Linked DNA regions of Homo sapiens: region 1 is linked to region 2. The links come from fine-mapping of genetic effects on gene expression. A gene starts in region 2. The other region holds a variant in brackets. All regions are shown on one strand. Distances are between the middles of the regions. Region 1 overlaps SF3A3 (splicing factor 3a subunit 3). Region 2 holds the start of FHL3 (four and a half LIM domains 3).

Evidence for each region. PIP is the estimated chance that this variant, and not a neighbour inherited with it, causes the effect.
Region 1: its variant is the best candidate, but not a certain one, in a credible set for the expression of FHL3 in T cells (TOPMed, PIP 0.76).

The regions. Positions count from the first base shown.
Region 1 is chr1:37,963,631-37,968,012 of GRCh38, forward strand. All of the region lies in intron 15 of SF3A3 (splicing factor 3a subunit 3), which reads right to left. Among named protein-coding and RNA genes, the nearest start is that of INPP5B, 19 kb to the left of the region's middle. The variant TA/T (reference allele first, on the strand shown) is at 2,611.
Region 2 is chr1:38,003,215-38,007,596 of GRCh38, forward strand. It overlaps FHL3 (four and a half LIM domains 3), which reads right to left and starts at 2,300. Exons shown (of 6, transcript NM_004468.5): 1 at 2,143-2,300. RefSeq lists an enhancer at 310-1,118 and silencers at 1,971-2,330, 2,361-2,420.

The DNA.
Region 1 (4,382 bases), 40 kb before region 2:
ACTGCAAGCTCCGCCTCCTGGGTTCACGCCATTCTCCTGCCTCAGCCTCCCAAGTAGCTGGGACTACAGGCGCCCGCCACAACGTCCGACTAATTTTTTGTATTTTTAGTAGAGACGGGGTTTCACTGTGTGAGCTAGGATGGTCTCGATCTCCTGACCTTGTTATCTGCCCGCCTCAGCCTCCCAAAGTGCTGGGATTACAGGCGTGAGCCATTGCGCCTGGCCCTGCCAATGATATTCTTAAAAAAAAAAAAAAAAAAAAAAATTAGAGCCAAGCATGGTGGCTCATGCCTGTAATCCCAGCACTTTGGGAGGCCAAGGCGGGCAGATCATGAGGTCAGAGATCAAGACCATCTTGGCCAGCATGGTGAAACCCCATCCCTACTAAAAATACAAAAATTAGCTGGGTGTGGTGGCGCACGCCTGTAGTCCCAGCTACTTGGGAGGCTGAGACAGAAGAATCGCTTTAACCCGGGAGGTGGAGGTTGCAGTGAGCAGAGATTGCGCCACTGCACTCCAGCCTGGCGACAGTGCGAGACTCCGTCTCAAATAAAAAACAAGAACAAAAACAAACTCTGTATGGCTAAGAGAACACGATTTCTTTCTAGAAAGACTCTTAATGACTAACCCTTAAAAAATTACGTGATAAGTGTGATTTCAAAGAAGGCAGTAAGGCGTTGTGGAAAGAGGAAAGACTGTTTTAAGACACACGTGTTGTAATCCCAGCACTTTGGGAAGCCAAGGCAGGCAAGTCACCTGAGATCAGGAATTTGAGACCAGCCTGGCCAACATGCTAAAACCCTGTCTCTACTAAAAATACAAAAAAATTAGCCAGGCGTGGTGGCGAGCGCCTGTAATTCCAGCTACTCGGAAGGCTGAGGCAGGAGAAATCGCTTGGAACCAGGAGGTGGAGATTGCAGTGAGCTGAGATCACGCCACTGCACTCCAGCCTGGTTGACAGAGCAAGACTCTGTCTTAAAAATTAAAAAAGAAATTAAATGAAATGAAATAAAAAAAGAAGTAAAGAAAAAGGCTGCCATGAAAATGTTAATGGCAGAGAAAGCTACCACTGCGGGGAAAACAGGAAGCCTGGCGGTGGTCCTCTATGTGCTTCAGCAGCACATTCCCTGATATGCACTCCACTTCACTTTCTTCAAGAGGTATTTTGCTGCTGTGTTTCTATAGCCTCAAACACAAGCTTACTGAGGGCACTTCTATTTTTCCCTTTATATCAGTCATTCTCTTAACATGAGCATGGTGGCTCATGCCTATAATCCTAGCACTTTGGGAGGCCAATGCGGGTGCATCACTTGAGGTCAGAAGTTCCAGGCCAGCCTGGCCAACATGGTGAAACCCCGTCTCTACTAAAAATACAAAAATTGCTGGGCGTAGTGGTGCATACCTGTGGTCCCAGCTACTTGGGAGGTTAAGGCACAAGAATTGCTTGAACCCAGGAGGCGAAGGTTGCAGTGAGCCGAGATCAGCCACTGCATTCCAGCCTGGGCAACAGAGCAAGACTCTGTCTCAAAAAAAAATAAAAAATAAAAAAATAAAGTTGGGTGCAGTGCCTCATGCCTATAATCCCAGCATTTTGTAGGGCCAAGGTGGGAGGATCACTTCAGCCCAGGAGTTTGAGACCAGCCTGGGCAACATAAGGAAACCCCATCGGCACAAAAAAAAAAAAAAAAAGAAAATAAACTCAGAATAGTTTTATAAAGCACTTGCTTTCTTTGTCATAAGAAGTCAAGAAATTATATAAGTTAAAGAATCTTAGCGCAGTCCCACTGAAGAGATAATCTCTGTCAATATAAACAGTTTCAAATGACAGGTTGTAGCATGTTGCATGTTGGGCGGGGATCACGCCTGCAATCCCAGCACTTTCGGAGGCTGAGACAGGCAGATTGCTTGAGTACAGGACTTTAAGACCAGCCTGGGCAACATGGTGACACACCATCTTTACAAAAAATACAAAAATTAGCCAGGCATGGTGGCACAAGCCTGTAGTCCCATCAGCTTGGGAATCTGAAGTGGGAGGATCACTTGAGCCTGGGAGGCAGAGATTGCAGTGAGCTGTGATGGCACAACTGCACTCCAGCCTGGGCAACAGAGTTGGAAGCCCAAGGTTCAAGCTGACCAAACAGCTGAACAGCCTGCTAAACATAACTGAGAGTAAAGTGCCTGTAATTTAACAGTGGGGGGTGGGATGGGGGGGTAAAATACCTTACTTCTGTCTAATCAGCCAACAGTGAAATGTGACATAGATCCACTGAAAAGAATATAAAAAGCCGGGATGGGCGCGGTGGCTAACGCCTGTAATCCCAGTACTTTGGGAAGCCAAGGCAGGTAGGTCACCTGAGATCAGGAGTTTGAGACCAGCCTGGCCAACATGCTAAAACCCCGTCTCTACTAAAAATACAAAAAAATTAGCCAGGCGTGGTGGCGAGCGCTTGTAATTCCAGCTACTCGGGAGGCTGAGGCAGGAGAATCGCTTGGAACCAGGAGGTGGAGGTTGCAGTGAGCTGAGATCACGCTACTGCACTCCAGCTTGGGTGACAGAGCAAGACTCTGTCTCAAAAAAATAAATAAATAAATTAATTAATTAAATTAAAT[TA/T]AAAAAAAAGAAGAAAAGAAAAGGCTGCCATGAAAATGTTAATGGCAGAGAAAGCTACTACTGCTGGGAAAACAGGAAGCCTGGCGGTGGTCCTCTATGTGCTTCAGCAGCACATTCCCTGACATGCACTCCGCTTCACTTTCTTCAAGAGGTATTTTGCTGCTGTGTTTCTATAGCCTCTAACACAAGCTTACTGAGGGTACTTCTATATTTTCCTTTATATCAGTCATTATTTAACACATTAAAATCAATTCAGAAAACTATCCATACAACCATTCAATCAAAATCTTGCATAAAAGGGAGTTCACAGACCCAGGCTAAAAGCCCTGGTTTATACTCAGCACAGAGCTCTTCTCAAAGGAGAAACAATCAGTATTGCCGACTAATTCATTTCTCTTAAAAATGCAATAATTAGCTGGGCACGGTGGATCACGCCTGTAATCGCAGCACTTTGGGAGGCCGAGGTGGGCAGATCACCTGAGGTCAGGAGTTCAAGACCAGCCTGACCAACATGGAGAAACCCGTCTCTACTAAAAGTACAAAATTAGCCAGGCATGGTGGCGCATACTTGTAATCCCAGCTACTCGGGAGGCTGAGGCAGGAGAATCGCTTGAACCCAGGAGGCACAGGTTGCAGTGAGCCGAGATCGCACCATTGCACTCCAGCCTGGGCAATATGAGCGAAACTCCATCTCAAAAAAAAAAAAAAAAAAAAAAAAAATGCAATAATTAGGCGCGGTGGCTCACGCCTGTTATCCCAGCACTTTGGGAGGCCAACATGGGTGGATCACTTGAGGTCAGGAGTTCGTCACCTCAACCAGCCTGGCCAACATGATGAAAGCCCATCTCTACTAAAAATAGAAAAATTAGCTGGGCATGGTGGCACATGCCTGTAATCCCAGGTACTAGGGAGGCTGAGGCAGGAGAATTGCTTGAGCCCAGGAGACGGAGGTTGCAGGAGCCAAGATCGTGCCACTGCACTCCAGCCTGGTGACAGAGTGAGACTCGTCTCAGAAACAAAGGCTGGGCATGGTGGCTCACGCCTATAATCCCAGCACTTTGGGAGGCTGAAGTGGGCGGATCACCTGAGGTCGGGAGTTCAAGGCCATCCTGGCTCACACAGTGAAACCCCGTCTCTACTAAAAATACAAAAAATTAGCCAGGTGTGGCGGCTCATGCCTGTAATCCCAGCACTTTGGGAGGCCAAGGCGGGCGGATCATGAGGTCAGGAGATCAAGACCATCCTGGCTAACACTGTGAAACCCTGTCTCTACTAAAAACACAAAAAATTAGCCAAGTGTGGTGGCGGGCGCCTGTAGTCCCAGCTACCGGGAGGCTGAGGCAGGAGAATGGCATGAACCCAGGAGGTGGAACTTGCAGTGAGCCGAGATCATGCCACTGCACTCCAACCTGGGCGACAGAGTGAGACTCCGTCACAAAAAAAAAAAAAAAAAAAAAAAAAAAAAAAAATTAGCCAGGTGTGGTGGCACGTGCCTGTAGTCCCAGCTACTCGGTAGGCTGAGGCAGGAGAATCGCTTGCGCCCGGGAGGCAGAGGTTGCAGTGGGCCAAGACTGCACCATTACACTCCAGCCTGGCGACAGAGCGAGACTCCATCCATCTCAAAACAAAACAAAAAAACACAAAACAAAAAACAGAAATGCAATAATTATACAACTGTCCTAGATTTTACATATCCACAACCTACTGCCTTTAACCCTGGATACACAGGGTATTAGGATGCTGAATTGAAGGAGTAGAGCCATTTGTACTC
Region 2 (4,382 bases):
CCTCAGCCTCCTGAGTAGATGGGACTACAGCCATGTGCCACCATGCCCAGCTAGGTTTTTCTATTTTTTGTAGAGATGGGGTTCTCACTATGTTGCCCAGGGTGGTCTTGAACTCCTGGCTTCAAGTGATCCTCTGGCCTCAGCCTTCCAAAGTGCTGGGGTTACAGGCGTGAGCCACTGTGCCCAGCCTGGTCTGAAATTTGACCTGGACATTCTCAGCATAGGCCCAGGGAGAGAATAGGGGGCCCCAGGCCCATGGGGCTTGCTGAGGACACCAGTGGGGAAAGTGGTCGCTTCAGTCCGGTCAGCCTGACTCTAGTAAGCTTAACTCTTGAGATCTCTCATGCAGGTCCACGGATGTAGACACCTGCATGCTGCTTTGCCACTCACAAAGTCCATGCCCACCACAATCTCATCAGATCTCACAAAAGGCAGGCAGGACAGAGTATCATCCCCATTTTACAGCTGAGCACAAGGAGGCCAGGAATAGAGCAGGTTCATGCCCAAGGTCCCGATCAGGACCCAGGTCCCCTGCCTCCCAGCCCAGAGCTCTTCCCTCTCCCTAAAAATGCTGCCCTGGTGATGAAGCGGATGGTGACATGGGGGTGGTCAGTTTTTAAGGGCAGGGGAACAGGAGATGCACCAGAGCCTGGCTCTTCTCCTCAGCTGCTAGCCCTGTGATTGGAAGACACCCAGAAGCCTTTCCAATGCCCCATGCCAACCATTCAATCCTTCTGCCCCCACCCCCAACATGCCCACTGTCCAGGAGGACCCTGGCCAGGTCCCACAGCTGTGAGTCAGGATCAGAACAGACCCCTCCCCCACCTTCTAGAAGCTGACAGGAGACTTAAGGGGAGAAATCCAACTCCCTCAACCCTCACCCTCTGCTACCGGGCACCAACCCCAAGCTCTGCTCTCCCCCATGTGGCCTGGAAGTCAGAGAAGTTTAGGGAAGGGGGTTGGGGAGCAAGATCCCGCAGCTGCTCTGGGGACATGAGAGGAACAGTTCATTCACCCTGGGTCCCCCAGGGCTGAGGCAGCCCATCCAAGATTTGAGTTCAAAAATAAGTTGGGGCTGTCTTGGTGGCTGTGTGTGTGCGTGGGGCTCTTCTTGATCTCGAACTTACTGTCTCAGGGCCTCTGCCTCATGGGGGATCGGTAGGCTCAGAGTTTCTGTTTCCCCACAGCCTCACCTCCCAATGGTTCAGGCCCGGGTAAGTCAGGGGCTGTCCTGGAAGCTGTCAGACCACCTAGGTCTCTCTGCCCCCACTTAGTCTCAGTTTCTGGTGTCTGTCTCTGCTTCACTCAGCATCTCTGTGTCTGGGCACACTTCAGTCTCTGTCTTTAGGTTTTGGACGGCTCTGTATCTTGACTGGCTGTCCCCCAGGGGGCCCATGCCTCTGTGGATCTCAAGTCTTGGTCTCTTCTTGTCTACATGGCTGAATGTCTCAATCCCCACCACCTCCCTTTCTCTGTCTCTGCATCCAAGTCTCTTTCGCCACCTCTGCACGCCTGAATGTCTCTGTCTCTAGTCTCTGAGCGTCTCTGCAGGCCTCAGAGAGCAGATTCAGCATGAGGCCAATGACGCCCAAGCCTCAGGGCACCTCCAAGGCCCGGGGAAGGGCCCTAGGGAATGTGTTCGCTGGGGTCCCACGTATGCTTTTTCTGAAAATGCTCCACAAAGCCTAGGACGGCCCCCATGCCTCGGGTCTGTCCACCAGTAACTCTGTACGCCCGGTGTGTCCTTGTTTCAGTGGTCTCGGTAGCCTCCTGTGCCTCGAGTCCCTGCCTGTCTCGGTCTCTCGCTCCACCGGGCTTTCCGAGAACCTCAGTTTCTCCAGCGCTTCTGGTCGGTCGGTCTGTCTGTCTCTCTCCGGCTTTTCTATTTCAAACTTAGCCCCCTCCCCCGCCCAACTCTCGCTGCCGCCCCCGCCCCCGCCCCGCCCGATAGCCCGGAGGGGTCCAGTCCCGGCGGGCGCTGTCCCGGGCTCGGCGTGCCCCGGGCACCCGTGGCCAGAGCCCGGCGGGTACAGGGGACCGGGGCCGCGGCTGGCCTCAGCCCTCCGCGGGTCCCTTCGCTCCCCGGCCTGGGCGCGGGGGCGGACCGCCAGGGCTGGGAGCCGGGGTCGGCGGGGCGCTCACCTCGAAGCGGGCGGCGGGAGCGGGGAGCGCGCGGCGCAGGCGGGGCCGGGAACCGGGCGCCGCGTCCCTCGGCGGCTCCTACCTGCGGGCCGGGCCAAGCGGGGGCCGAGCGAGCTGCCGGCGAGGCTGCCGACTGCAGACGGACCGTGTGGGCGAGTGGGAGCGCGGCCCCAACCCCTCCCCGAGGAAGTGAGCGCGGGCCCGCCCCGCCCGGACCCCGCCCCCGGCCCCCCAGCCCGCCGCGGGGGCCAGACCCCGCCCCCACCTCCCTTTCGGCCGCCAGTCGGCCCGGCCCCCTCCTCCCGCCCGGCCTAACCTGGCTCTCCCAACCTTCAAGCGGCCGGGACCCCGCCCCTGTCCCCTCCCCGCAGCCTCTGTTCTCCTCCCCTCCCACCCCCCATCCCCAGCTGCCAGAGGGAGACTGCTGTATTCCATCTCAGGCCGGCGACACGAGACCCCGCAGACCATGGTCCACTGGGGGAGTCCTCTGGCCTCCTCGGATCCCCCCACCCCTTCACCTTACCCCAGGGGTGACACTCAGCCCGGCCTTAATCCAGCCTGGAGGAGGACGTTTTGACTCTGCTGTCATGAGCCTGTCAGCGGGCACCAAGGTGTTCTCTGAAAACATGGGACGAAGAGAGGACCCCTCCCCACCATAGGGCCTTGACCTCCAAAGGGTTTTATTCCACAACTTTGAGTAGCAAAAACAGGGGTAACCACCTCCCCACTTCCAGCAGCCTCCTGACACTGAGAAGTCCTGCCTTGCCTGGGTTTCCGCAGTGCCCAGGAATAGTTTTGACCTTTGAGGCCCGGGGGAGACCCTAATCCTCGGCCCCATGATCTTTGGGCTTCTAGGGTGGGGTGTGAGGAGTGTGAGAGGATGGGGCACCTCAGGGGTGGTGGAGGAGAGGGGAGGGGACCTCTGCGGTGTCTGAGCCTCTGGCTTCCTCCCTGTGTCCGTGAGGGAGGACTGGCGCCTGCTAGGGACACGAGGCCCCTCCAGGTCCTTAAGGCCACCCCCCCTGGGATCCTCAGGCTTGTCACTAGGAATAAATAGCCTCAGTCTGGAAGAGGTGGGGGAGGGAGGGAGGCAGGAGGCTCTACTGTGCTGTTTGTGGAAACAAGAGACAACAAATCAACCCCGGAATAACCTTAGCATCTAGAGTGAAGATTCAGGTGCCCACAGAGGCCTCCCCACACCCCAGGCTGGGTGTAGCAGAGCTCTCACGGAGGAACTAACACCCTCCCAGGCTGGGGCTCCTGAGAACCTTTCCGTCCCATCTCTGCATCATGCCTGGGTTCCTGGGTCCCAAGTCACCCACCAGGTCTGGTTTCCTTTCAAAATTAAATCATTGCTTGCTTATTATTGCTGTTGTTGCCTAAATGGTAAGAGCCATGAAGGCAGGGCTCCGTTTTGTTCCCCACTGCCTTCTCAGTACTTACTCCAATATCCGGCACATAATAAACATCTGATGAATGAATGGATACCAGACACTGCTTCAGTATGTATGCCCCTCTAACATCCTCGGTTTGGATCACAGGCACCTGCTATCTGGAGTCCAGGCAGTGAGCATCCAGCCCATGGATGGGGCCTTTTTCTGGGATTTTTTTTTTTTTTTTTTTTTTTTTTTTTTTTGAGATGGAGGCTTGCTCTGTTGCCCAGGCCGGAGTGCAGTGGCGCACTCTCCGCTCACTACAACCTCCACCTCCCAGGTTCAAGCGATTCTTCTGCCTCAGCCTCCCAAGTAGCTGGGACTGCAGGTGTGCACCACCACGCCCGGCTAAATTTTTTTTTTGTATTTTTAGTAGAGACGGGGTTTCACCATCTTGGCCAGGCTGGTCTCAAACTCCTGACCTCAAGATCTGATCTGCCTGCCCCAGCCTCCCAAAGTGCTGGGACCACAGGCATGAGTGACCATGCCCAGCCTCTCTGGGATGTATCTTGCAGGTGTAAGAGACTCCCAGCCCAGGGGAGTGCAGTGAAGACTACTCAGCCTTGGTGGAGTGGGTACCAAGAGGAGGTCAGCTCTGGGGGACGGGAGGGCAAAGGTGGGGAGCCTTCAGAAAGCAAGGGGTTATGAGTGAGTACAGAAGGGGCCTGATAAAAGGCAGAGTATTGGAATCTCTGTTCTTGATGCATGGCTCTAATCTCTCCTAAATAGCCTTAATGAGAGCCAGTACTTCCTGAGTTCTTTCTTTGCACCAGTCCTGAACACTTTACATATATTGACATACCTGAT